Linked DNA regions of Homo sapiens. The protein of the gene in region 1 purifies or fractionates together with the protein of each later gene. This does not show direct contact. Each region holds a gene or a part of one and is shown in the gene's direction. Other genes may lie near its edges. The genes, in order: RAB11A, EXOC6, CHM, TM9SF2, VPS13C, CIP2A and FTSJ1.

The links.
Region 2: the proteins of RAB11A (region 1) and EXOC6 purify together in Homo sapiens (affinity purification with western blotting, with the first as the bait; one study listed by BioGRID). This does not show direct contact.
Region 3: the proteins of RAB11A (region 1) and CHM purify together in Homo sapiens (affinity purification with mass spectrometry; 2 studies listed by BioGRID and IntAct, with this or other methods). This does not show direct contact.
Region 4: the proteins of RAB11A (region 1) and TM9SF2 purify together in Homo sapiens (affinity purification with mass spectrometry; one large-scale study listed by BioGRID and IntAct). This does not show direct contact.
Region 5: the proteins of RAB11A (region 1) and VPS13C purify together in Homo sapiens (affinity purification with mass spectrometry; one large-scale study listed by BioGRID and IntAct). This does not show direct contact.
Region 6: the proteins of RAB11A (region 1) and CIP2A purify together in Homo sapiens (affinity purification with mass spectrometry; one large-scale study listed by BioGRID and IntAct). This does not show direct contact.
Region 7: the proteins of RAB11A (region 1) and FTSJ1 purify together in Homo sapiens (co-immunoprecipitation; one large-scale study listed by IntAct). This does not show direct contact.

Annotation. Positions count from the first base shown.
Region 1 is NC_000015.10:65,875,349-65,879,496, forward strand, and holds part of RAB11A (ras-related protein Rab-11A), read left to right. Parts: intron 1-1,983; coding exon 1,984-2,179; intron 2,180-2,413; coding exon 2,414-2,607; intron 2,608-4,148. UniProt on the Homo sapiens protein: The small GTPases Rab are key regulators of intracellular membrane trafficking, from the formation of transport vesicles to their fusion with membranes.
Region 2 is NC_000010.11:92,854,693-92,858,840, forward strand, and holds part of EXOC6 (exocyst complex component 6), read left to right. Parts: intron 1-4,148. UniProt on the Homo sapiens protein: Component of the exocyst complex involved in the docking of exocytic vesicles with fusion sites on the plasma membrane.
Region 3 is NC_000023.11:85,964,059-85,968,206, reverse strand, and holds part of CHM (rab proteins geranylgeranyltransferase component A 1), read left to right. Parts: intron 1-4,148. UniProt on the Homo sapiens protein: Substrate-binding subunit of the Rab geranylgeranyltransferase (GGTase) complex.
Region 4 is NC_000013.11:99,542,524-99,546,671, forward strand, and holds part of TM9SF2 (transmembrane 9 superfamily member 2 precursor), read left to right. Parts: intron 1-1,339; coding exon 1,340-1,472; intron 1,473-4,148. UniProt on the Homo sapiens protein: In the intracellular compartments, may function as a channel or small molecule transporter.
Region 5 is NC_000015.10:62,050,171-62,054,318, reverse strand, and holds part of VPS13C (intermembrane lipid transfer protein VPS13C), read left to right. Parts: intron 1-4,148. UniProt on the Homo sapiens protein: Mediates the transfer of lipids between membranes at organelle contact sites. Necessary for proper mitochondrial function and maintenance of mitochondrial transmembrane potential.
Region 6 is NC_000003.12:108,579,252-108,583,399, reverse strand, and holds part of CIP2A (protein CIP2A), read left to right. Parts: intron 1-316; coding exon 317-423; intron 424-1,197; coding exon 1,198-1,292; intron 1,293-1,888; coding exon 1,889-1,985; intron 1,986-3,711; coding exon 3,712-3,834; intron 3,835-3,973; coding exon 3,974-4,119; intron 4,120-4,148.
Region 7 is NC_000023.11:48,479,199-48,482,698, forward strand, and holds part of FTSJ1 (tRNA (cytidine(32)/guanosine(34)-2'-O)-methyltransferase), read left to right. Parts: intron 1-1,952; coding exon 1,953-2,005; intron 2,006-2,090; coding exon 2,091-2,144; intron 2,145-2,227; coding exon 2,228-2,330; intron 2,331-2,433; coding exon 2,434-2,517; intron 2,518-3,204; coding exon 3,205-3,308; intron 3,309-3,398; coding exon 3,399-3,500. UniProt on the Homo sapiens protein: Methylates the 2'-O-ribose of nucleotides at positions 32 and 34 of the tRNA anticodon loop of substrate tRNAs. Requisite for faithful cytoplasmic translation.

The DNA of each region.
Region 1 (4,148 bases):
TTGTACTAAGAGGCAACAGTGAATGTATCCTATTAATAATAGACTATTAACTGAAACTGAGATTTGACTTCATATCCAGAATGGTGGACCTTGGAAACTAGTATATCAACTAACCATCCTATAAAATTGAAAGTGCATTGCTTTTGTACATCACTTTAATAACTTTGACATTTTCTTCTGATATCAAATAAAAGCATGTATGTGTTTGCCACAGCATCTTTGACACCCTCTAGTTGACTCTCTAGTTAGAAATAACCATTCTTTGTGCTGCATTGGATTCACTGCCTCCTGAATGATTTCTTGCTGAATCAGCTGACTGAGAAAGCCAGAAAGATATGCATTTGATAATGTACTCTGTCCAAGACTGTCCAGAGGCTAGCTTATATCCACTCCTGTGGCAAGGAGGGAATGTATAATGGACTCTCTTTGCCCTCTGACCAGAATGCAGTGAGCTCTCAGTTTTTACCATTCTTTCCACTCGTACCACCATCCCAGTCTCTTTAGTAAGGAATGGTCTTACTCCTTGGCCTTATTTTTGTATGTTTGATTTTCTAGTCCTGATGTCTAAATCAATTAGCTAGTTTAGATAAGAAGAAGTCTTAGTAGTCAAAAGTAGGAACGAATGTAATGTTTCCTGAAATGCTGATACCAATTTTTACAAAGGAAAAAATATCTAGCTCAGATTCTATAAACGTGTGAACTCATTTTGAACTTTAAATTCAGATAGAAAATGTTTTAAAACAACTTAACTGCCTGTTTCTCCATTGTTTTTGAAATTCTTAAGCGTAATACCACTTTGAGTGAAAAAGAATCTCCATGTATCTAGTTAGTAAATAAACTGCTGCCTATAGAAATCACAGGAAGCAAATTCATCTAATCAAGACCTATTTTCAAAAAAATCATGGAGTCATAAGTGAAAGTATATGCCCTCCTTGCTTTGTTGTATTTTATTTTATTTATTTTTTTAAGACAGAGTCTCAGTGTGTCGCCCAGGCTGGAGTGCAGTGACACAATCTCGGCCCACTGCAACCTCTGCTTCCCGGGTTCAAGCTATTCTCATGCCTCAGGCCCACAAGTAGTTGGGATTACATGCGCCCACCACCACACCTGGCTAATTTTTGTATTTTTATAGAGATGGGGTTTTCACCATGTTGGCCAGGCTAGTCTCGAACTCTTGGCGTCAAGCAATCCGCCCACCTTGGCCTTCCAAAATGCTGGGATTACAGGTGTGAGCCACCACACCCGGCACTTGCTTTGGTTTTGACTCACAGTATGTCAGAATTATTAGTTTCCTAATACCCCCTGTTTATCTGTAGTGGCTTGGGTTTTTTTGGCAGAGGGGTCTCTAACTTTGAACCAATCTGATAAATGCAACTATTAAAGGTCATTTTAGTTTCTGTGATCTGTATGGTGATGTTTATAAACCCTATGCCTCATATGTTAAATGTTTTTCATTTTGCCTAGGTCTCAGTCCTGAGGTCACACCCAGTCTTTGATGAAACGAAGTATATTCATTTTGTCCTTCCCTACCCACTAACAGCCTTTGTTGTTTTCATTTCTGATACATTACATTTTAATATCATAAATTATTCATTTAGTTTAGGATTTATCTTTGAAGTTGTTATCTTCTAAAGTAGTAAGATTGGCATAGCATTGACGGTAATTAATGCCTGTCATCAATGCCAAGGGCATCTGTGATTAAAACTGCATGTTTAAGACAGGGTACCGTATCTGTGCTAAGCAGATGATATGTGGAAGTCATGCAGGTAGAAACAGGTTGAAAAGAATAAATCGGTTTTATTGATTGGTAACTGGTCAAGAACATGCTGTTCAACCCCCTACCCCCATTCCTTTTTAAAAGTCATATACCTTATTTTTCTTGCTTTATTTACTCTGAAGCCAAACTTCATTCTGTTGAAAGCATAGTGGTGTTCTGAATATGTTTGCCTCATTCATCTGACATTGAATTCTTTGTCTTTCCAGTTGTCCTTATTGGAGATTCTGGTGTTGGAAAGAGTAATCTCCTGTCTCGATTTACTCGAAATGAGTTTAATCTGGAAAGCAAGAGCACCATTGGAGTAGAGTTTGCAACAAGAAGCATCCAGGTTGATGGAAAAACAATAAAGGCACAGATATGGGACACAGCAGGGCAAGAGCGATATCGAGCTATAACATCAGCGTAAGTCTCATGGTTTTTAAGTTCTGTGAAATGGGTTGCCATCGAGTGAATTAGCTGACTTTTGGTATTGGAAAAAGAACTGTTGTTTTTTTCTTTTAAGAATTCTAGTATTAGGAATCCTTAGAAATTTATTTATAAGTATGTTTTTAAAACTCATGATCCATATTTTGAGTTCTTCCTGGTGTTTGCTTCCATCTTGTGGTTTTCTGATACTAAATATGTTTCTGTTTTCAGATATTATCGTGGAGCTGTAGGTGCCTTATTGGTTTATGACATTGCTAAACATCTCACATATGAAAATGTAGAGCGATGGCTGAAAGAACTGAGAGATCATGCTGATAGTAACATTGTTATCATGCTTGTGGGCAATAAGAGTGATCTACGTCATCTCAGGGCAGTTCCTACAGATGAAGCAAGAGCTTTTGCAGGTTAGTGATAGGAATTCCATGATATTTCTTACCATTGTGTCTTGTGGTTTTGATACCTTCCAATGAGAGTAATAGGTTATAATAGTTTCAGAGAGGTAAACATGAATGCTTAGCAAGAATTGTTTTGAAAGTTTGTGATGACTGTATAGCTTTTTTGCTTTGAGTCATTAAAACACTAATATTTTGCTGCCAAAAAATGAATATAAACATTGTATATTCTGTCTCTTTTTCTGTTATGTTTCTGTGTTTACAAAGGCTGCTGTACGTGAGCTCTATGTGAGTGAAAGGCAGAGGCTCAGGGAGTGTCAGGGACCAACAGGGATGCAGCTGCTTAGGAGCTGTAACTTTTTGGCTTCATAAAGAATTCACGTGTCTCTTGCCCCTGTTCTGGTAGGGACAGCATGCCAGAAGACAACATTGTGCATTGTGGCTAGTGAAAGTCTTGCGGCCGGGCGTGGTGGCTCATGCCTGTAATCCCAGCACTTTGGGAGGCTGAGGTGAGTGGATCATGAGGTCAGGAGATTGAGACCATCTTGGCTAACATGGTGAAACCCCGTCTCTACTAAAAATACAAAAAACCGGGCGCGGTGGCGGGCGCCTGTAGTCCCAGCTACTCGGGAGGCTGAGGCAGGAGAATGGCGTGAACCCGGGAGCAGAGCTTGCAGTGAGCCGAGATAGCGCCACTGCAGTCCGGCCTGGGCGAAAGAGCGAGACTCCGTCCCAAAAAAACAAAACAAAACAAACAAAAAAAGAGAGAAAGTCTTGCCTTTGCACTAATGCTTATGCTATGAATAACTTTCTGTAACAGTTTTTTAAATTTCCCATGCAAGAATAGCTTTATTGTAAATAATATGGCTACAACATACGGAATACTATAGCCAATGTAGTTGATGGAGAGGATAGCAAGAGATGGAAATAACTGGGCACTTGATACATTTTTACCACATTTTAAGTGGTGTCATTCGTCACTAGTGAGTAGTACTTAGATATAACAAGTATTTATTTTAATTAAGGAGCCAATTGACAATTTCTCACTTTTTTTTTTTTTTTTTTTGGGAGCCAGGATCTCACTCTGTGACCCATTCTGGAGTGGAGTGGCACAGTCAAGGCTCACTGCAGCCTCGACCTCCTGGGCTCTAGTGATCTTCCACCTCAGCCTCCTAAGTAGCTGAGACTGCTGGTGTGTGTCACCACGCTCAGCTAATTTTTAGTATTCTTTATATAGAGAGAGCAAAACCTCTCTCCAGTGTTTTGCCATGTTGCCCAGGCTGGTCTTGAACTCCTGGGCTCAAGCAATCCGCCTGCCTTGGCCTGCCAAAGTCCTGGGATTACAGGAGTGAGCCACCATGCCCAGCTCTCTTGCTATTATTTTTAATCTATTAAAGTGTAAATATTAAAGTGTAAGTAGGGTCGGGCATGGTGGCTCATGCCTGTAATCTCAGCATTTTGGGAGATGGAGGCAGGAGAAACTCTTGAGGCCAGGAGTTCAAGACCAGGCTGGGCAACCTAGTGAGACCTGCATCTCTACTTATATAAAGAAG
Region 2 (4,148 bases), on another chromosome or scaffold:
ATAAATCCCATTTGATCATAGTGCATAAAGTATAATCCTTTTTATATGTTGTTGGATTCTGTTTGCTAGTATTTTGTTGAGGATTTTTGCATGTGTATTCATAAGATATTTTGATCTGTTTTTTGTGTGTGTGTGTGTGATGTCTTTGATATGAGAATGATACCTCATAGAATGAGTTGGTGCTCTCTCAATTGAGATGAGTATTTGGGTTTTTTCCCCCCTTTATTCTATTCATGTGGTACATTACATTGATTGATTTCCTCATGTTTAATTACCCTTGCATTCCTAGGATAAATCTCATTTGGCCATAGTGTATAATCCTCTTTAATATACTGTTGGATTTGGTTTGCTAGTATTTTATTGAGAATTTCTACATCTATATTCATGAGGGATTTCTGTAATTTTTTTAGAGACAAAATCTCACTGTGTTGCCCAGACTGATCTTGTACTTCTGGCCTCAAGCAGTCCTCCTACCTTAGCCTCCCGAGTAGCTGGAATTATAGGCATGAGCCACTGTGCCTGGCATGAAAATTTTTTTTTTTAATTTATGTTTGAGACAGGATCTTGCTACATTGCCCAGGCTGGTCTTGAACTCTGGAGCTCATGCAGTTCTCCCACCTCAGCCTCCTGAGTATCTGAAACTACAGGCATGTTCCACCATGCCCAGCTCTGTAATTTTCTTTTTTTGGTGATGTCTTTATCTGGCTTTGGTATCAGGGTAATGCTGGCCTTATAGAATGAGTTAGGAAGTGTTCGCTTCTCTTCCACATTTGGAAGAGCTTGTGAATGATTAATGTTAATTCTTTAAATATATGGTAAAATTTTCCAGTTAAGCCATGTGTATTTTCTTTGTTGGGAAGTTTTCGATTACTGATTCCATTTCATTACTTGTTAAAGGTATACTCAGATTTTCTAGTTTTCTTGAGTTAGTTTTGATAGTTTGTGTCTTTCTAGGAATTTGTTGTGTTTCATTTAGATTATTTTAGTTGTTGACATATAATTGCTCATAACTTTTTCTTATTTTTATTTCTGTAACATTCTCTCTTTTGTTCTTGAATTTAGTAATTTGAGTCTTTGTTTTTGCTTGGTCATTCTAGATAAAGGTTTGTCAATTTTGTTGATCTTTTCAAAGAACCAACTCTCTGTTTTATTGATTTTTTTCTCTATTGTTTTTGTTTTTTCTTTTTTTTGAGATGAAGTCTTGCTCTGTTGCCCAGGCTGGAGTGCAGTAGCGCGATCTTGGCTCACTGCAACCTCCGCCTCCTGGGTTCAAGCGATTCTCCTGTTTCAGCCTCTCGACTAGCTGGGATTACAGGCACATGCCACCATGCCTGGCTAATTTTTATATTTTTAGTAGAGATAGGGTTTGCCACGTTGGCCAGGCTGGTCTTGAACTCCTGACCTCAGGTGATCTGCCTGCCTTTGCCTCCAAAATTTCTGGGATTACAGGCATGAGCCACTGCACCTGGCCTCTCTATTGTTTTTCTGTTACATTTACATCTGATCTAATCTTTATTACTTTCTTTCTTCTGCTTGTTTTGGGTTGGGTTGCTCTCTTTTTTATTATGATGGAACCCAACCTTACGATGGAAGTTTGGGTTATTAATTTGAGATCTTTCTTATTTTTTAATATTGGTTTTTACAGCTATAAATTTTTCTCTAAGAACAGCATTAGCTTCATCTAAAACTTTTTGGCATGTGTGTTTTCATTTACCTTTCTTCAAAATATCTTTAGTTTTCCTTATTATTTCCTCTTTCACTGGTTATTTAGAAGTGTGCTTAATTTCAACATATTTGTGAATTTCTAAAATGTCCTTCTGTTATTAATTTCTAATTTAATCCCATTGCAGTCAGAGATAATAATTTGTATGACTTCAGTTTATTTTAAGTTTATTGAGGCTTATTTTATTGCCTAACATAGTCTGTACTGGAGAATGTTCCATGTTCCCTTGAGAAGACTGTGTATCCTACTGTTGTTGGAGGGAGTATTCTATAGAGGTCTGTTAGGTCTAATTAGCTTAGAGTATTGTTCACGTCTCCTATTCCCTTTTGGTCTTCTGCTTAGTTGTTCTATCCATTATTGAATGATGAGTAGTTTTTATGTCTTTTCAGGCTCTGTTGTTAGATGCATATATGTTTATACTTTATATATTCCTTATTGATTGACCATTTGCCGTCATAAAATATCCTTTATTTCTAGACTTGTTTTAAAGTCTGTTATGTCAGATATTAGTATAGCTGCTGCAGCTTTCTTATAGTTGCTCTTTTCATGATATATGTTTTTCTGTTTACTTTTAAATATGTCATTAAATCTAAAGTGTATCTCTTGTAGATAGCACATCATTGGATCTTATTTTTATCCAATTTGAGAACCTATGCCTTTTGATTGTTTATTCATATTTAATGTTATTATTTACATAGTTGGATTCACATCTGCTGTTTTTCTTGTGTTCTATGTCTCATTTCTTTCTTCCTTTTTTTTTTTGCTCCTCTATTCCTTTTTTACTGCTGCTTTTGCATTAAGCAAATATTTTCTGGTGTAATATTTTAATTAGTGATTTTTTGGGAATTTAGAAAAAAGTTAGTTCTTAGTGGTTGCTCTCAGAATCTACTTCAGAATTAGTCTAATTTCCAGTAAGGTATAGAAATGTTACTCTTATATAGCTATATTCCTTCTTTCCCTTTTTTTGTGTTATTACAATAATACATTACTATAATTGTTACTTTTTATAATTTTTTGTCTTTTAAAGAAGCAGAAAGAAGAACAGAGACCAATATGTATTTTTAAAGTTTGTTATATTAAGTTTCTTATTTACTGTTTCTGATTCTTTTCATTTGTTGCTGGGTTTTTAGTTGTCATCTTGTGTCATTTTCTTACTCCAGAATGGCTTTGCTCCCACATACATCCTTTGTGTTGTGATTGTCCATTGTATTACATATATTCTATATATATTTTATATGTTGCATGCCACCAATACAATTATGTACATGTAGTTTTATGCAACTGCTTCCACAAATCAGATAAGAAATGAGAAGTATGCATTTATACTGTATTTTATAATTACATAGTTACCTTTACTGGTGTTCTTTGTGTGTGTCTGTGTGTGTCTGGTCTGTGTGTCTGTGTGTGATCAAATGGTCATCTGAGTTCACTCTTAATCGTGAGGAAATTCCTTTTGTATTTCTTGTAAGGCTGGTCTGCTTGAAACTATTTCCTGTTTTTTTTGTTGTTGTTGTTTGTCTGTTTTTTTAAAATCTGGGCATGTCTTTATGTCATCTTCATTTTTGAAAGATAGTTTTACCATATGTAAGATTTTTAGTTGACGGGTTCCCCCCCTCCGCCGGCCAGCAGTTTGAATATGTCTTTCCACTGCCTCTGGGCTTCATTATTTCTGATGAGAAGTCAGCTGTTAATCTTATTGGAATTCCCTTATGTAATCAGCAGTTTCTTGTTGTTTTCAGGATTTTCCGTTTGTCTCTCATTATTTTACTATGATGTACCTGGATATGGATCTCTTTATGTTTATCTTACTTGGAGTTTGTTGATCTTCTTAGATATGTAGGTTAATGTTTTTCATCAAATTTTGGAAATTTTAAATTATTTCTTTAAATAGTCATTCTGTTCCTTTCTCTTCTCTACTTTGGTGCTCCCATCTCATGTATGCTGGTGTGCTTAATGATGTCCACATTTATTTGAGACTCTGTTCATTTTCCTTATTCTTTTTTCTCTCCTGTTCTTTTTTCTCTCTTACTGTTTTTTCTCTCTTGTTCTCTGATTGCATAATCAGACTGTCTTGTATATTCACTGATTCTTCCTTCTGCCAATTCACATCCACTGTTGGGACCCTCCAATGAATTTTTCATTTATGTTACTGACTTTTCAACTCTGGAATTTCCAATTATTAAAAAAAATAATTTCTACTTCTTTATCCATCTCTATTTGGTAAGACATTGTCATCATACTTTCCTTTGCTTCTTCTTTTTAGTTCTGTGAGCATAGTTATTATGGCTGCTTTGAAGTCTGCTACATCCAACATCTGGGCCATCTCATAAGCAGTTTCTATTGCCTATTTCTTTCTTTCGTTTTTTTTGAGACAGAGTCTTGCTCTGTCACCCAGGTTGGAGTGCAGTGGCACAATCTTGGCTCA
Region 3 (4,148 bases), on another chromosome or scaffold:
AATTTCTGAATAGTCTGATTTTTGTAATTCTTATGAATAGCCATTAAACATTTATTTTAGGAATAAACAGCTGGGTAGCAGTATAATATATACTGTGAAAATCAGAAATAAATGGCCTTAGAACAAAGTATAAACATCAAAGTAAAAGAATACAATGTCTGCAGCAAGTCGTATTGGGTAAGAGAAGGTGCAAATGGCTGAAAAATAAATGGTGAACACCTGTGCTGAATAAATTAAACACCTGTTCCTCAGTTTTTCATTTGATTCCTCTAAAAGGCTGTTACAAGGTATTCATAAGACACATTTACTTTGAGGTGTTTCTTTGTTATTACTATTAATTGGGAAGCAGTACTAGATGATATCAGAATATATACCTCCAAACTCTCAGAGTAGTATATGAATTTTGGCAATTAGTGAAAAATGCATTTACAAAAAGCAGTGTTAAGCAGTTTTTATTAAGAAAAATTATCTAAAAAATATTGTTACATTATAAATGACCTTTGGAATTAAAGCTAGCAATGTAAATGACACTAAATTTAATTTGTGAAATCAATTTTGATAGTGAACATTTTTATAAGAACTAATGATGCAGATTGTTTTCCTTTAGATAAACAGTCTGCAGCTTAAGATGGTTCGACTTAATGATTTTTCAACTTTGTAATGGTTTTATTGGGGTATTAAATGCACTTTGTCTTACTATATTGGGTTTATCAGGACGTAACCCCATCATAAGTCGAGGAGCACCTGTGTATGTTAAAATCATTGTAATATCTTAGAACTCCAAGGTTCATTTGAAGGCTTATAATGCAGCTACATTGTTTTGTAATTGGTAAATGTGTTTTTATAGTTTTCAAACACTTTTAAATTAGTAGAATTGAACTATTACTGGATTCTGAGGTTTTCTCTGAAAGGTTGAATATCTTTTTAAGAAAATGTCTTTTACCACAGTATAAAGTTTTAAATTTGGGGAAAGATAACCCTTTTAGATGAACAGAATTTTGCTTTCTGAGGATGTCAGTGGAGTTTTAGGAGCTTTTGGGTGTCTTTATATTTTCTCATTAGGTATTAACTTCAACCTTGGCAGAACTCCAAAAATACTGTGGTTGTTTTTAATGGAAAGTGAGGACAGTGTTGTGTTTTTATTGCTTGTGTTTTCCGTAGTGCTAGGAATCTCACCAAATTATAATGTTGAGAACAGTAAAACGATAGTTTATTGATGTAGAAAAAATTTCCGAAGAATAATTTCTTCTCTTCGCTTATACCTTTAATTAAGTATTTTGACTTATATCTTCCAGGTTGTCCAGTACTGGTTAATGTATTTCATTCACTCTATAGGGCCCCCATCACAGAATGTAATAGAGAACCACTGACTAGATCATTTGCTATGCTCAGTTTTCACAGTGTCATCATCATAGTCTGTAATAAGAGAAGTTGCCATATTTTGTCTTATCTGTAAAGTGTAATTAATTATCCTTTCTTAAAATTAAAGGCATGGAACTTTTGCTTTAAGAGTTAGGCATGGAACTTTTACTGAAAAACAAAAAATTAGGTGTGGAACTTTTGCTGAAAATTGTCCCCTTAGATCCCTCATGTAACACACTTTAGTTTTGTTGGTTTTCAAGATAATAAAAGTGAATAAGAGTGTGAACAATTCTGTAGAAAATATATAAATCACCTTTCATATTATGACTCTTCATTCTTAATGCTGTTAATAGCGATGCTATTATGTGCTTATATGGCCAATGGGCTTTTGTCATGTGAATGCAGAAAACCTAGGTATACAGGTTTTGAGTTGACTGTTGAGCTGTGGGCAGTTTAACAATATCTTATTTTTGAGTAGTTTTTTTTTTTTTTTTTTAGACGGAGTTTTGCTCTTGTTGCCCAGGCTGGAGTGCAATGGGACGATCTTGGCTCACTGCTACCTCCGCCTCCTGGGTTCAAGTGATTCTCTGGCCTCAGCCTCCCAAGTAGCTGAGATTACAGGTGCCCATCACCACGCCCAGCTAATTTTTGCATTTTAGTAGAGACTAGGTTTCACCATGTTGGTCAGGCTGGTCTTGAACTCTTGACCTCAAGTGATCCACCCACCTCGGCCTACCACAGTGCTGGGATTACAGGTGTAAGCCACCGTGCCCGGCCTGATTAGTATCTTATCTTTGATTAACCTTTTAGAGTTTATAAACTACTTTTCATATATGTTAGCTTCCTTATCTCACAACAGTTTCATAAAAGGTAAGGCAAATGGACTGATCCCCATTTTATATGTGGTGAATCAGAGAGATTAAATGACTTGCCAAGTGTTTCCTAAGTGATAAATCTAGGATAGAACAAAGTGGGTGTTTTCCTCACTTTGGTTTCCTAGATCTCAAAAATATTCATGTAACATTAATGATATCAATTTGTTTCTTCACTAGATTTTATTAGAATTACTATAACAGTAAATATGGCATTTTATTTCTTGACATTTGAGTGTTATTCTATCATTGTCCCTCATTTTTTTTTGTAGTGTTCATTGTGTTATTTTTAATAAGGCACTTCTTTTTTTCACTTAACTCGGACTTTCTAATTTACAATACCGTGTTTTTTTCTTGGCCTTATTTTTTGTGTTTTTTGCAACAAGTTTGTTTCGCATTTGAAACAAAAATAGTCTGCACGTATAAACCATTATTAATTAAGCATTTATTGGATACCACATCTATGGAGCAGTGTGGTAGGTGTCGTGAGGGGCACAGAAGGAGCGGTGCTAAGGTATTCCCTCAAGGAATTACAGTCTGATTTGGAAGATAAAGGATATACTGGAAAACTAAAGGACTATTAAAAAGGAATGGATAAATACATGCAAGGTAAACTGCATATGTGTATTATGGGAGCATGGTATAATAGAGTGATGAGTGTAATTGGAGTAAGGAAGACTAATTGGAAGTTAAATTTAAACTTTTTCTTAAAGTAGTTTGCTAAAGTATGTGATTATGTTTGAGAATGGAAGAATTGTGATATTATGCAGAGTGGGAAGAAAAGGACAGAAGAAACAAATGATATGAACCAAACTGTCATGATTTGACAATTAGAATTGATAAATTCGGAGTTAGAGATGCCATGTTGGAAAGTAGGTGGAGATGAAACCAGAAGATTAGTAAATAAGGAAGGTGGTTTGGTTTAGAGACAGGAAAAGGAAGATTTTTTTGTGGGGTATTTGATATAAGGAAGGGCTACTGTTAGGGCTACTGTTAGTCAACTAGCAGATTTTTACTTGCCAAGACCAATCACATACAAGGCATTCTGCCAGGTATTGAGCAGTGTGGCAACTCAGTGAAAATAGTGGGTTCTGTGGAGGATAAAATATCACAGAAATTCATAAAGCAGGCAGACTGAATGGGAGCCTGTTCTATAAATCAAGACAATGGTGGACTGAGAATGTTAGCTCCAATAATAAATTTGGAAATGGGGCTTCGACTAGAGTAATAGACATCAGTACTAAAATAGGCAGGAAATTATACAGAAAGGTCCTATTAGATACCACATTGTGATAGGCCAACTTAATCTTTTCAAGGCAGATATTTTTCCCTTTATTGAAGGTCTTCTGTCGTATCACCAAGTCAGGAATTCCTCAGTAATAATCATCTTTGATAACTACCACTGTTGAGTATTTACTATGTCCCAGGCACTGTGTCAGGCTCTTTGCATGCAGTACTTAATTTAATCTTCAAAACAACCTTGTGGTAGGTGGTATTATCTCTGTGTCATAGATGGGTAATTTAGGTGGTCTCAGAGAGGGTAATTTAGGTAATTACCTAAATTGAGGGTAATTTAGGTGGTCTCAGAGAGGATACATAAGTATCTAAGTTCGCAGAGCTTACTAGTCATATGGTCAGGGTTTGAACCAAGATCTGTTATTCTGAAGACTGTGTTCTTCATCACTGTGGTAATTTGCTTCCAATACAGTTCCCCTGTCTGTCTTAAATTCTCAAAAATGTGCATGTGACATGAAATCTTTATATCTTTCAAATCTTAATTTTGTTTCATATTTTACTGAAACATTAACAGATGAATGTTTAATGTCTGAGTCACATAAGCAAAACGTACACTGAACTTGATAAAAGGGGTAAGGGAATATATATATAAAGCCTGGTGTTTATTATTATATTTCT
Region 4 (4,148 bases), on another chromosome or scaffold:
GAATCACAGTAATTTGGAATGAATGCAAAAAACTCAGGTTTTTATTGTATTCTCTTCCCCCAGCTTCTTCAGCCTCCTGTCCCCCAACCTCTCTGACCTGTTCTGATTGGGGAAAATATATATGAATATTCATAAGCTTTTAACGTTTGTACTCTATAGTCTCTTTCCTATGATTTTTATTGATTTTATGTCTTATTAAATATTAAAATGATTTTAAAATACTCTGTTTATAATTGGCTGTTCCACATAATTGCTGTTAATGGAGTTTTATCTTAATTTGCACAGCGTTGCCATGTGGAACCAGGCCAGTGGTGACTCTGCTTCCACAACCCTGTCCTACTTCCCATCTCTTAGCACAGCAGTCAGAGTGAAACTGCTCAAACAGAAGTCAGATCATTTCACTCTTGAGCACGGCCCTCCAGGGACTTCTGTTCAGTCAGAGCAAGAGTCAGAGGCTTTACAGTGGCTTCTAAGGCCCCACGTTACCTCAGCACTCTGCTGCACCTGTGCCGGCTACCTTGCTGTTCCTCAGACCAGGCAGACATAGGTTTCCACCTCAGAGCCTTCACGAAGCTCACTGTTTTATCTGCTAAGAAGGTCTGCCCCTCATTTACATGGCTAGTTCCCTTACCTCCCTCCGATCTTTACAAAATGTGATCTTCCCATTGAACCCCTCCCAGCCATCACATATGTTACATCCTGTCCTGCACACACCCATACATCCTGTTTTTCTGTACAGCGCTTATTACCATCTAATGTACAGTATACTTTCCTGACTTATTTTGTTTATTGTCTGCCTTCCCAATGAGATCATGTACTCCTGAGAGTAGGAATTTTTCTGTTACACTCACTGTGGTATCTGGTGTTTTAAACAGAGCCGAGCTTATAGTTGGTGCTCAATGAATGTTTACATCCATGCTTACTGTATTAGCAAAGTAGCTAGAATATGAGAGCTAATGCCATTTGCTTATTGTGGAGATCATTAAGAGTAGGATGAAGAGGATAGAATGTGACTAAAAATCGTCATCAAGTCAGATCACAAAGCTTGACTTAGAGTAGAATTAGGTAGCAATCACATTGTCTTTGTAAAGTTTCTCAATAAGTATATTTGTAGACCTTAATGTCATAAATTTAAGAAACTGACATATAAGACAGTTCAGCAAAGCCATATTAAGCTCCATGAGTCAAGCTGTATTCTTCAAAATTGAAATAGGTACTAACATTTTTAAGTTTAAAAAAAACCTGTTTTCTGTAACAGCATATTCAACAGTGAACAAACTGTCTATAGTTGTCTTGTTGATACCATGAGACAATCGAACTGATTTCATTCCCCTTTTAGGAAGATGCCCAGGAAGAATTTGGCTGGAAACTTGTTCATGGTGATATATTCCGTCCTCCAAGAAAAGGGATGCTGCTATCAGTCTTTCTAGGATCCGGGACACAGATTTTAATTATGACCTTTGTGACTCTATGTAAGTGTTAACTGAAAATTTTCAAGTAGAAAATACTTTCTAAATACAGTAATTGCTTAAAAACCAGTTTTTCTGGCCGGGCATGGTGGCTCATGCCTGTAATCCTAGCACTTTGGGAGGCCAAGGCGGGTGGATGACAAGGTCAGGAGTTTGAGACCAGACTGGCCAATATAGTGAAACCCCGTCTTTCTACTAAAAATACAAAAACTGGGCATGGTGGCAGGTGCCTGTAATCCCAGCTACTTGTGGGGCTGAGGCAGTAGCTTGAACCTGGGAGGCGGAGGTTGTAGTGAACTGAGATTGCGCCACTGCACTCCAGCCTGGGTGACAGTGCAAGACTCCATCTCAAAAAAAAAAACAAAAAACACCACAGTTTTTCTAAGTGGGTAGGTAAGCCAGATTATTTCTGAGCATCCTTTAGGTTCTCAAAATCTAAGTGACTTGGGGCAGGTTTAGTTGCACCCAAAGACTGACTCTTGGTTTCTCCCTTCAGCTCTTCCTAGACCAAGCCTTTGTCAGGGAGGCACTGGGCTGGAGATGAACAGGTCCTTAAGACCATCAGCATCTGAGTCTAAACAGCCCAGAACTGGGACCATTTAGGGTCTCTTTTACCCAGGCATCGTGGGCAGGCACAGTCTGGTTAGGGTTCCAGGATATTCTTGGCTTCCACGGAGGGAGGAGGGTGGGAAAAGAAGGGATGGGGCAGGAAGCACTGTGTAGATCCTTCTCATCTGGGGAGGATTTGGGAAGCAGGATCTCTCTCCTCTAGGGAAAGCGAGTGTGTAGGAAAGACCTTCCTTCCTCCATAAAAAGATTCTCTTCTTTGAGCTACCTCAGCGACTTCAGAAATTGTATTTAAATTTTTGCCAACTAGGACAATTTTTTTTTTTAAATAAATGTTCCTTAGAGGTATTGATAGCCACAGGGATTGTTCTGAAACTACCTCTGGGTATATGTTAATTCCACTGTCTTCCAGTTTCCTTAATTGGAAGATAAAAAAGGTTTATGAATAGAATTTTCTAAATTTTACCTTTATTTAATGTATTTTACTTTATTGATGCCTGCTACTGATAAATAGCAACAAATGAATATACTGGGAGAATTCAGAAACTAACCTTTAATAATTTTTTAGTAAACATTTATTTTTTATGTTTGATTACATATTAAATACATAATACCACAGTTATTTTTGTTAGTAAAGTTGTTCCAAATTTTTATGATAAAATTAATTATATAAATGCTTTGCAAAGAGCAGTATCATTTTCAAATGTCTGGCACTGAATAAGTTTGGGAACCAAACTCACACCTTCAGGTTCAGTTTGAAGACTGACTAGGATATCTTTTTTTTTTAATCTACTAACAACTTAAGGAGATACAATTTTGATAGGTAGAGCTAGAATTTGTAACTATATCATACTAAAGAGAAGTTAAGTCATACTAAAGAGAATAGGTCAGGAAAAGGTGTCATAAAAAAGGTTTGGACAGAGGGTGGTAGGGTGAAGGCACTGGGTGACAGAGAGCCAAACTAGACTTAGAGCAGAATGAATGTTTGAAGATAAACTTCTGCTTTCTTTCTTTCTTTTTTTTTTTGAGACGGAGCCTCGCTCTGTCACCAGGCTGGAGTTCAGTGGCGTGATCTTGGCTTACTGAAACCTCCACCTCCTAGGTCCAAGTGATTCTTCTGCCTCAGCCTCCTGAGTAGCTGGGATTACAGGCGCCTGCCACCACGCCTGGCTGATTTTTGTATTTTTGGTAGAGACACGGTTTCACCATGTTGTCCAGGATGGTCTCAATCTCTCAACCTCGTGATCCGCCCGCCTCGGCCTCCCAAAGTGCTGGGGTTACAGGCGTGAGCTACCACACCCAGCCAACTCCTGCTTTCAAATCTTATTAGGAGCTGTCTTCTGCGATGCTCTGGTTTTTATTGCGGTCAGCTAGAAAAGTGAACTTTTAAGGAAGGAAAGTTTCAGAGAGTCTAGGATAGAATACGATGGGAATAATTTTCCTTAAGTCCTCAAATAGGAACTTTCTGCCGAAGGGCAGTCCATTTTTCAGGTCGAGGAGGAGAAAGGGGTTGCATTTTAGCTGAAATCTTGTACATCTTCTAAAGCTACCCTGATGTGTTTCCTGCTCATCATGACTCTGGTGCTTGTCAGAGGTGTGTGCGCGTGCTTGCTCACATACGTGCTTGGTCATGCACGTTTTAGGGGAAACAATAGGGGGGGAAACAATGGGGATTTTCTTGCTGAGCCTCCTGAAACTCAGTTCTCAGCAGTATCCTACTCACCTTGGGATTCTGAGCACCTTATAACTTCTGAGCCCCAGCTTAAAGCTGGGAATTTCTATGAATATAATATAGCATTTTAATTCTCATTAGTAGGAAGGCTTACATAGGGAAGAGCAAACAAAGCTAACCACGTGAATAAGGTAGGGCCAGGGTTTCCCCGTATTGCTGACAAGGTCCTTCCGTAATTTGTGAAAAGCTAATGGCCGTATGAAATCTTTCTCCCTCATTTTGTTCTTTCATTAGATTATATATGTCTCTTCTGTTTGAATGTTGTAAGGTTTTGGGTTTTTTTTTTTTTACCCCCAGAGGACCCCCATATTTTTTAATGAAAGAACAGTGGGAATATTTTGTAGTGGAAACATTTTCACTTATGTCAATTTTAAAGGCTG
Region 5 (4,148 bases), 3.8 Mb from region 1:
GTTTGTAAGTCAGGCTTTCAGAGGTTCAGAAAAGTGCCTGGTGGGTACATACTGCCTACATAAGTAGGAAGGTTTATCTAGATTTTTGTTCCCCACAAACTGGTACCAATAGATAAATTTCACAGCCCTTAGCTATTGAGATGTGTCCAGGATATAATTGTTTTAAGAGTAACATATATTTGAAAAGGTATGTTGAAATGCCTCATCTTTTGCAATATGATTTGAGTAGTATTGTTGCAATGTAGAACCTTTGTCAATTTGATTTTTCAAAATGATTTACTGTGGAGAGTCAGCAGGAAAATCCTCCAGTACTCGGAACTCTGTTGTTCTTAATTCCACTGGACAGGTGGAATCAACATAGGAACTGTGATGTGTTAGATACAAGGGTGACTCTGGTGACCAGGAATAGAAGCCAAGTGCAATGCCCTCAGAATCTGTGGCCCTGCAAACCAGACTGAACCCGTGCTGTTTATCCCACTCCTGACAGTTTATCCCACTCTTGACACTTCCCCTTGAGCTGCCAGATATTGTTGGAGCAGTGCAGCATAAGAAAGGAGAATGAACACTGGACTGGGAATGAGCAAACCTCTTTAATCTTATTCCATCTCTGATTCTGTCTAGTTGTGTGGCTTTTGGCATGTCTCTGACAAGTGACCATTGGTTGCTTATCTGTAAGTGGAAAGGTTAGACAAGGTCATCTCTTCTGTCTTTAAACTTCTGTGATTTGAGCAAGGCAAGAACAACGTGAGATCCTTCATTGGATGAGTGGTACTGCCACTTCCTCCGCATTCATAGAGAGAAAAGGTAGTTAAATAATGTATCTTTATCTTTCCTTTTTGCTCTTCACCCGATATTGGTGAGTAAAGAGCCACAGTCAATGACAGTGACAAGATAAATGAAGTTCCAGGCTCATGCTGATATTTGTGGGTCCAAGTGTAATATACTGTAATATATTGTCTTAACAGGTACCTGTAGGGCAGCTTGAGAATGAAAGAAAAAGCAGCTCTTTTTGCTTTTTTTGGCTTTGACACATAAAAGATGTCAGTATCTAGGTATTTCTAAACCTGTAGAGGGATTTTCTTTAGTCTTTTCCTCCCAGCCAGCACTTGGTGTAGTGGAGGCCACATTTCTCATTAGCTTGTCCTATGGCATATAAAAGTAAACAATAATGAAAAGGTCATTAGTGTAATACATATTTAGGCTCAGTTACTACCAGTTAAAGCGGTGCTTAAAAATTTAAATTTAAGCACCTGTTCACATATTTAAGTAGCATTACTAATTAAAAATTAACTCCTTTTCTAGAACTAAAACTGAGAATTGGTATTTTGGTAACCATTCTGCTAGGAAGCTCTACCACATTACTCAATATTATGGGATCCCTGAAGTGAACTGAAAGGGAGAAAGTTCAGTGGTGATGTTGCAGCTTTCTACCTTCCTTTGTCAAAACTTCCTGTTTCAGTAGGGAAATGGGAAGAGTGAGAGAGTTGTTTCCTTTCTCTTTCCTGTCTTCCTCTCTGAAGACAAAGTCACTGTGAACTCATTAAAAGGAGTCTAGATTGGTTAATTTGGGTTGACTAGCTAGATTCATTTGAAATGAATAGCTATAATATTTTCTTTGGTATTCTTTTTTTTTTTTTTTTTTTTTTGAGACGGAGTCTTGCTTTGTCGCCCAGGCTGGAGTGCAGTGGCACAATCTCGGCTCACTGCAAGCTCTGCCTCCTGGGTTCACGCCATTCTCCTGCCTCAGCCTCCACAGTAGCTAGGACTACAGGCACCCGCCACCACGCCTGGCTAATTTTTTTGTATTTTTTAGTAGAGACGGGGTTTCACCGTATCAGGATGGTCTTGATCTCCTGACCTTGTGATCCACCTGCCTCAGCCTTCCAAAGTGCTGGGATTACAGGCGTGAGTCACCGCACCAGGCCTGGTATTCTTTACTAAAACATAAATCATTAAAATAATTTGATTCATGCTTTGCTTTAAAAAACTGTTCAGTCATCTACTTTAGCTCACCTCCCTGGAAAATGAATTGTGTCAGAACATTCAGATATGCTTTCAACTAAATAATGTTTATGTTATAGATACATAAACAAAATCTTAAAAAATAAATACAAAGCATTCTTTATTTCACTATTCTTTATATGCAAAGCTAGTTTCATGGATTATGGCATGGCATTTTTGTTTGTTGGATGGTTTTTGTGTTTAATCACAGTTTTGGATTAACCTCTATGTTTTATATTAAGAAAGTTGACCTAGGAGTTGGGAGACATAGATTCTATTCTTAGTACTGCCACAAAAAAATTGTATAACCTTGGATAAACTACCAGATCTCTTTAGACTTTAATTTCTTCATGTATAAAGTGAGAGGGGCTTAGATTTGAAAATCTTTATGGTCCCAAATAGTTCTAAATCATAACTTGTGAATTTCTGTCTTTTGAGGAAAAAAATAGATTTTTAAAAAGTACTAAAATGACCATTTTGTAATACCATCTCCTGCATCTGTTTTTCCCTGTGGCACTACGTTTTCTTCTGGTTATGCTCTGAACATAACCCCCTTGACTCTATCCTACCGTTCTGCCTGTGCCCTTGTTATACTAATTTTAGTTATCCTTTTTGTTTTGGATTTTTTTACGTCTCTTTGCAAATACAGAGACCAAAAGTGGAACCGACAACCACGCTGGCCTGTGAATGCTGAGTCTGATTCTTTTATGGCATTTTTGTTGTCCAGGGAGGTCGAATTACCTTCTGAATTAAAATCCTATACGCTTTATGCTCTGCTATTCGGGAGAACAGTGTTATTCTGAAGATAGCATTGAGTTTTATAAGATTTGAGCCTTGAGACTGCCACTTACTATTAGGTTGCCATAGGATTCTTGGGCTAGTCATTTAACCTCTCTAAGCCTCAGCTTCTATTGCTTAATGTATACAACCTGTTTCTTGCCCAGGAGGCTGTGAGGATTGAGTAATGTTATACATCTGAAAGTGTTTTCTAAAATATAAAGATTTATGACCTTATTGTAGTTGGTTCCACCCCAGTACAATATGCATTCTGAAGTCAGTATTTATCGAGTACCTACTCTGAGGAGAATCAGTAAGAAGTTTATAATCAGACTGGGGATTTATATAAAGTTAAGTGTTACGCACCATAAGAAAGCTATAGCCTAAATTTCTGCAAAAGTTTAGAGAGATTATTTCTGGTTGGAGGTACTTAACAATAGGACTATATTTCTTACATTTATTTTGTAGGCCATTATGTATTTAAAAAGCCATTCTTGGACTTAGGCAGGCTTTTCCTTATTGTGCTAGTACCATTTGATTTTTATTCATAAATACACTAGCTTGGTTGTTTTCTATAACTAGCAACTATTTCTACTTTTTTTTTTTTGCGATGACTCCAACTCTTCATGTCATTTGCTAATTTACTTCCATTTTCATCTTCTGGTTCACTGTTGAAGAATACTAAATTTTGATCCAGTTTTGATCCAGGATTTACTTTTTTTTTTTTTTTTTTTTGAGACTGGGTCTTGCTCTGGCTGTCACTGAGGCTGGAGTGCAGTGGCATGATCCTGGCTCACTGCAACCTCTGCCCTTCTGGTTCGAGTGATTCTTCTGCCTCAGAATCCTGAGTATCTGAGATGACAGGCACCTGCCACCATGCCTGGCTAATTTTTTTGTATTTTTTAGGTAGAGACAGGGTTTCGCCATGTTGGCAAGGCTGGTCTCCAACTGCTGGGCTCAAGTGATCCAATCGCCTTGGTCTCCCAAAGTGTTGGGATTACAGGCATGAGCCACTCACTGCACCTGGCCCTTTTAGTATATTTCTTAAAATATCTTTCAAGATTGGCTTTGAAACTATGGTGACTTTCTAGCAGTGTATGCACATCCAAAATATATGTAGTTTATTAATGAGAATCATATGGGGTCTCTTCTGAAGCACAGACTACTTACTGTGTATATTGTCTACCCTCCTCCCATGGGCCTGTCAGTCCAGCATAAGGGAGATCGCTTCACAGAATTTCCTTATCTGTCACCTTAGTCTGTTTAGACTTGGTAGGATTAGAGCCACTTGATTGTGGGATTGGCTTTAGAGCTTTCCTTGCTGGCAGAGTTAAGTTTATTCATCTCCAATTATTAGTTAACATATCCCT
Region 6 (4,148 bases), on another chromosome or scaffold:
CCATTGTGTAAATATACCATAAAGTGATAATCTTTTAATATTCAAAGTAAATGATTTTAATTTGATACTAAAATAATTAGTATCAAAGAAAAAGCTTGCTACAAATGTGTAAACAAGTTTTTTCTTTGATACTAGTTTATTTTACATAGAGAAATCATTTGAATTTCTGAATTGGAGGGTTATCATAAAGAAAATAAGAAAATAGCCATATCATACCTTTTTTAATAATAAATTCATATGAAATAAATTCTGTATGAATTATCTGCAAAACCTTGTAAGAAAATGATATATTTTGTGCTTTTATTTTAACTTATAGCAGTAGACATTGAAACCAGAGATTGTCTTCAGAATACATATAATCTGAATAGTGTGCTGGCGGGAGTGGTTTGTCGGAGCAGCCACACTGATTCGGTGTTTTTGCAGGTATACAGACCCACACAGTGTATTCCCCTTTCCTTACTGTCAGATCAAAATTGATAGTTTCTGTCATAAACTGCTGACTTACAGTGTATATATGCTATATAATAAATACTACATGATTAGGCACAGTTCATCTCATTAAAAGCTGGTTGCACACATACAATTTAAATGTTTCTAGAGAAGAGAAGCTTATCCATTTCTATCACCACTATTGAAGAAAAACAAATCTACATTATAACTGCTTTGACTTATAAACACAGATGTCTGTGTTTTGAGACATAAGCTATTTATATTAAAATTGTAACGTGAGTTGGCATCTAGTCTCAATCTGTGGAGGAAACGTTCTACAAAAATTAAAGCTGTAGATAGAGTCTATTTAATATAGATTCAAAGCTCTTCATATTTCATTGACTCTAAAATGTCATCAATTGTAAGAAAGAAAAACATCACAAATTAAATTGACATGCAGTTTTAGAGGTGATAAAATGTGAAGAAGGGTATCTTCTAATTGATGGACTACATGTGTGTTTCAAACTGCATTCAAGTTTAAGATGACTAAGTGAACAAGGTTGATAACCATGCTCTGAGACAGAATACGTAGAAATGTGTGAATTGAGAGAAGAGCCCTAAGGTTCTTACATTACTTTACATGTGTTTTTTAAAAAAATTGTTTTAGGAAATGGAAAAGGACATGCTCAGAATGTGCCTGAGAGTCCATTATTTTAAGCAGGCAATGTTTTTATATCTTTATATTTATAACTATTTTCTTATTCTCAGTGCATTCAACTTCTACAGAAGTTAACATATAATGTCAAAATTTTCTATTCTGGTGCCAATATAGATGAATTAATTACGTTCCTGATAGATCACATGTGAGTATGCAATCAAACATAAAACCAAATAGTTTATTTGTTTATTTTTAAATTACAACCATGTGGTAGATTAATTTTTCTTAGATAACATTTTCTAACATATAAACTGAGTGAGACTCCGATTCTTATTTGTTCTGCCCAGATGATTTTAAGGATCAAAAGTTGTAAAAGTATGTGACCTCATTCATTGGTGAAAAAATGTAAAAAGGAAAAAAAAATTGTAAAGCAACTTTAATTTTCATAAGAAAAATTTATGGACTGAATTGATTTGGCCAGAAAAAAATTACTGAAATTGAAAATTGTGTAGTTATTCTTGTAGGAAAATATACTGATGAAACAGCACATGGTCCACGCTGACAGTTACTTCCATGTTTTCATGATGGAATTGAATAGGGTAATTTGGTTTTAAAATGAGATAAATGATCAATACTATTCAAAGCTTCCCTGGCTTCTTATGTTAATTAGTTTTTTTTTTTGCGTGTAAAAGGGAATTGAAATGTATAAACTTAACTATATCATTTTGACTTAGAATAATGTTAATGCTTTTTTTCTTTTACTATTTTTTCTTTAAACAAAACACCAATGTAAAACAACAGTCAATCTTCTGAAGATGAGTTAAAAATGCCTTGTCTAGGATTATTGGCAAATCTTTGTCGGCACAATCTTTCTGTTCAAACGCACATAAAGACATTGGTAAGAAGTTTATTTCTTTTTAATGTTTCTTGTTTTATGGTAGATTCTCTGCTTAAAGAAAATTGTATTTATCTTTTTCTTTAAAACAAATTTGAACAAGGATTCTGTGTCTTATCGGATGACCCATCAAAATTAAGAGTCAGATTGACATACAAATAACTTGAAGCACTTCAGCCTTCGTGTATGTTGTATTGAAGACTGTGTGTTAAGGGTTAATGCAAACACTTATTTCTAAAAGTTTTCCTCAGCATGGCATCCCATTATTTATTACATTGAGTAGTACAAGAATTACTAAATTATTTTGTGCTCTTAGAAGGGAGGCACATCACTGGCAGTCCCATTTATCTCAGTCTTGTGTTTCCACAAAATCAATGGCAACCCCACCAGAAAGATTCATGAGTTAAGTGCTCAGTATGAACCAACAGTACTTGTGATAAATGAAGACACACAAATGAATTTAACTGAATCACTTTTAGAAGTATATTAAATCAGCTGGGCATGGTGGCTCACACCTGTAATCCCAGCACTTTGGAGGCCAAGGCAGGCAGATCACAAGGTCAGGAGATGGAGACCATCTCGGCCAACATGGTGAACCCTGTCTCTACCAAAATACAAAAAATTAGCCAGGCGTGGTGGCACACGCCTGTAGTCCCAGCTACTTGGGAAGCTGAGGCAGGGGAATTGCTTGAACCCGGGAGGTGGAGGTTGGAGTGAGCTGAGATCGCGCCACTGCCCTCCAGCCTGGCAACAGAGTAAGACTCCATCCTTAAAAAAAAAAACAAAGTATATTAAATCAAGCAAGTCACTGATTCTTTAAGGTGCTTGGTGAACAATTTCCCTGCTGTGCTATTCAGCATTACCCGTTCGATTTTAAATTTAATATCTCACTTGTTCAAGTGCTACATTTTTCTGCCCTGGTCTTACTTTGGAGGTGGAGTAACTGTGTGTGTGTGTGTGTGTGTGTGTGTGTGTGTGTGTTTCAATTTCTGAATTGAAAAAAAAGTTCATATGTTCATATTTAGGAAACACTTAAATATAAGGAAGAATAAACATTTGCTCATAGTTTCATGTGTAGAAACTGCTCTTCACCAAGATTGTGGCTATCTATATGACTGTCAGCAATATACGAAACTACCCATCTTGCTCACACATGCAGTGATCTCTTAAATCTAAATGCTAATCAGCAAATATGGCAAAGTTAATTGCTGCTCCACGGTGTGTAACGTAAAACAAATTCTTAAATTTGCTGAATTTTTTTTGCTTCCACCACAATTATGAGAGTTCCTCATTACAGTTCTTTTGTTAACACAAATGCTAACAAATGCTACAGTTCTTTTGTTAACACAAATCCTGCAGTATTTAAGGTAGCTCTTTTGTTTCCACTCTGCATGTGTCCCTTTATTAGAATTGACACCCTGATTTACCATCATTGAATTATTTATTCTAAGGTGACAAAACTTTGGAAATATTTATCTCCAACTCGTTTGCACGCATTTACCAAATTATTTTTTTCTGTAGGTACTCTCTTTATAACAATTTTTGAATTTAAATTTATCTCTGATCTAAATTTCTCCTGTAGAACATTTATCTTTTAAATGCAACAATCATTTAATAGAGTTGATAATGATGTTTAATAAAAGTTTGCCCACTCTGTGCAAGATATACTTTTTAAACCAAAACATAAAATTTATAATTCTAATTTATTTTTTAACTTTTTTTTCCTCAGAGTAATGTGAAATCTTTTTATCGAACTCTTATCACCTTGTTGGCCCATAGTAGTTTAACTGTGGTTGTGTTTGCACTTTCAATATTATCCAGTTTGACATTAAATGAAGAGGTGGGGGAAAAGGTAAATACAATTTTTCAAATTTATTCTGAAGTTTATAGTCTGATATTTTAAAAGTCATTGAGACTTTTTTATTTTTACCTTTTAGGATGGTGTCAACTTAATTTTTTGTCTAATATGCTTTTTCTAATTTGTCCTTAAGCTATTCCATGCTCGAAACATTCATCAGACTTTTCAACTAATATTTAATATTCTCATAAACGGTGATGGCACTCTAACTAGAAAGTATTCAGTTGACCTACTGATGGATCTCCTTAAGAATCCTAAAATTGCTGATTATCTCACCAGGTATGACTCACTTCAGTCAATTTTAGAAC
Region 7 (3,500 bases), on another chromosome or scaffold:
TCACCTCTTCAGTTACTCCCTGCCTCTCCCTTCCGCACTCAGCTTTCTCCCACATCTGGCAACTTCTCCCTACCTCTGCTGCCTGTTCTCTCTCTGCCTCTCTCTTCCTCCCACTTGCACCCCACCCTTTGAGTTTCATGTCTGTTGTCTACCTTTCCCTGCTCTCATCTCTCTGCAACTGTCCAATTCCGTTGCACTGTTCATTCATTTTCAGCCAGCCAGCCATTCAACACACATTTACTGAGCACCTATTGTGTTGGGAAAACATTCATGAATAAAATTCCATTAATCTTTAACCTCATGGAGCTGATGTTCTAGTGGGAGCAAATGGGAAAGAAAATAAATGATTCAGCTCTGTACCATTAAAAGGGGATGGGGCCAGGCATGGTGGCTTCCACCTGTAATCCCAGTGCTTTGGGAGGATGAGGTGAGAGGAACACTTGAGGCAGGAGTTTGAGACCAGCCTTGCAACATAGCAAGACCCTGTCTTAAAATATTAGCTGGCATGGTGATGCATGCCCATAGTCCCAGTTACTCAGGAGGCTGAGGTGGGAGGATCACTTGAGCCCAAGAGGTCGAGGTTACAGTACACTTTGATCGCACCACTGCACTCCAGCCTGGGCAACAGAGTGAGACCCTCTCTCTAAAAAAACGGGGTGAGGAGGCCGGGCACAGTGGCTCACGCCTGTAATCCCAGCACTTTGGGAGGCTGAGGTGGTCAGATCACCTGAGGTCAGGAGTTCGAGACCAGCCTGACCAATATGATGAAACCCCATCTCTACTAAAAATACAAAAATTAGCCAGGTGTGGTGGCATGTGCCTGTAATCCCAGCTACTTGGGAGGCTAAGACAGAAGAATCGCTTGAACCCGGGAGGCGGAGGTTGCAGTGAGCTGAGATCGCACCATTGCACTCCAGCCTGAGCAACAAGAGCGAAACTCCGTCTCAAAAAAAAAAGGTGGGGTGGGGGATGGGTACCATAGGGAAATCATTGAGCAGGAGGAAAGCAGGAGTACCTGTTGGAATTTTAAATCAAGTGGATGGGGAAGGCCTCACTGACTTAACAGCAGAGACTAAAGGAGGTGGGGGAGTAAGCTATGGATATGTCTGGAGGAAGAGCAATCCAGGAAAAATTGCAGCCCGTGCAAAGGTCCTGAGGCAGGAGGGTGCTTGCTATGTATGAGTAATGACAAGCAGATCACTGTGGTTGGAACAGAGTGAGGGGGGGAGAGTGGTAAAAGGTAACATCAGAGAGGTAACAGGGGACAGATCCTATAGGGCCTCGTGGGCCATGGTGAGGCTGTTGGCATTTTCACCGAGATGAGAGCTTGGAGAAAACCATGAGAGGGTTGTGAGGAGAAGAGGACTGTGCTGGGCTTGGGCTACTATGAGCTGTGTGAGGGCCAAGGGCAGAAGCAGGGGCTCCGGGGTGGAGTAGTCCAGGCAAGTGATAATGGGTGAGGGCAGTGGTGGAGAGGAGAAGATCAAGTCAGATCTTTTGAAAGTAGATGTGTTAATGGCTTCGATGTGGGTGTGAGGAGAGGATGCGGGGGGAGCATCAGAGGTGACTAAGGTTTTGGATTTGAACAATTAGAAAGCTCAGATGAGATGGGGAGGATGGTGGGAGGAGCAGGTTTGGGGAGGTAGGTCAGGAGTTTGGTTGTGGATGTATTGGAGATGTAGAATCTGATTTGTGAATCTGGAGTTCAGAGGAACAGTCTGGGCTGGAGGTGGAAATGATAATGATGCTTGTGTGTGAGGTTGTTTTAGAATTGAAATGAGTTCCTAAGGGTTAGGAGCTCAGAATATGCATCCAGTTGGCAGACAGTAATTTGCATCTGGAACCTTAGCAGTAAGACAGCCTGGAAAATGTATTTAGTGTCTGATCTGTGTGGTACAAGAAGATGCACAGAGCCAGATGGGACCCCCCTAACGCTGTTCCTCTTGCCACAGTAACCGGTCTCCATGATGTTGATGAGTATATGCAGGCCCAGCTCCTCCTAGCTGTGAGTAACCCTGGCCACCCCTGACCCACTTTGGCCCCCTCCTGGCTGTCTCCACCTCAGCCTCAGCCGTCTGTCCTGCCCACAGGCTCTGAACATTGCTACACATGTCCTGAAGCCAGGGGGCTGCTTTGTGGCCAAGGTAAGTCTCAAGGAACTTGGTGGAGTAGAGGGAGGTCGCTGAGGGCCACCCTCACCCGCTGTCTTTGCCTTCTCACCCTGCAGATATTCCGAGGCCGGGATGTGACGCTCCTCTACAGCCAGCTGCAGGTCTTCTTCTCCAGCGTGCTGTGTGCCAAGCCCAGGAGCAGCCGGAACTCTAGCATCGGTCAGTGGGGTGGAGGGGCCAGGCAGGCAGAGGGGGATCTCTGGGACGCCGACTGCACGAGGAGGAAGCGGCAGTCATGCCTCACTCCACCTTCCCCTGGCAGAGGCCTTCGCTGTCTGTCAGGGCTATGACCCTCCCGAGGGCTTCATCCCGGACCTGAGCAAACCCCTGCTGGACCATTCTTACGGTGAGAGCTGGAGCATGGGCCACCCTGGGGGACTCTGCCACACCTTATGCAATCTAGGTCCCATGAGGGCCCACAGTCTCACCCCCTGGGGGAGGCTCTGTCCCCTCATGGGAATTTTTTTCCCAAGGGGATCCTTAGCCCCATTCTCTGATGGAAATCCCACCCCTTTATGGGTATTTTGTCCCGGGAGGAGCTTCAGCCCAGGCAGTCCTCTAGTGGTAACTCTTGGGCCTGGTGAAAATTCCATCCCAGGAGGATCCTGAGCCCTGCCCCAGTGGAGACTCCACCTGCCTAAGGACATTCTCTCCTAGGAAGATCTCAGTCATGTCCCAGGTGGAAACCTCCTCGGTGTGAAACTTTTGCCCCTTAAGCCTCTAGCAGGAAGAGACAGAGCCTGCCCCTGGGATGACATTTGAGTGAGGGAGACGTCATCCAGGCAGCATATAATCCAATATCAGGTGGACATAAATGCAGTGAAAAATAGCAGGGCACCGATGTTTTAGAAGGGGTGATTATGGAGGGCCTCCCCGAGGAGGTGATCTGAACCAAATGAAGGATTTCTGGTGGGGTGGGAAGAGAGTAGCTGGTGGATATGTGGGGAGGGTTTGGCAGCCATACCGCCGCCTGTGTCATGACTGGCCCCAGGCATCCTGACCTTGTCCTCAGTTGTCTCCCCCTGTTCCTAAGACCCAGATTTCAACCAGCTGGATGGTCCCACCCGCATCATTGTGCCTTTTGTGACCTGTGGGGACCTGAGCTCCTATGATTCGGACCGCAGTTACCCACTGGACGTGAGTGCCCAACCAACAGTAGGTGGGTGGGAGGGAGGCTGTCCTAGGTTACCAGGTCCTCACCATCTCCCTACCCCTCTGTCCCTGCAGCTAGAGGGCGGCTCAGAGTACAAGTACACTCCACCCACACAGCCCCCCATCTCGCCACCATACCAGGAGGCCTGCACGTTGAAGAGGAAGGGGCAGCTGGCC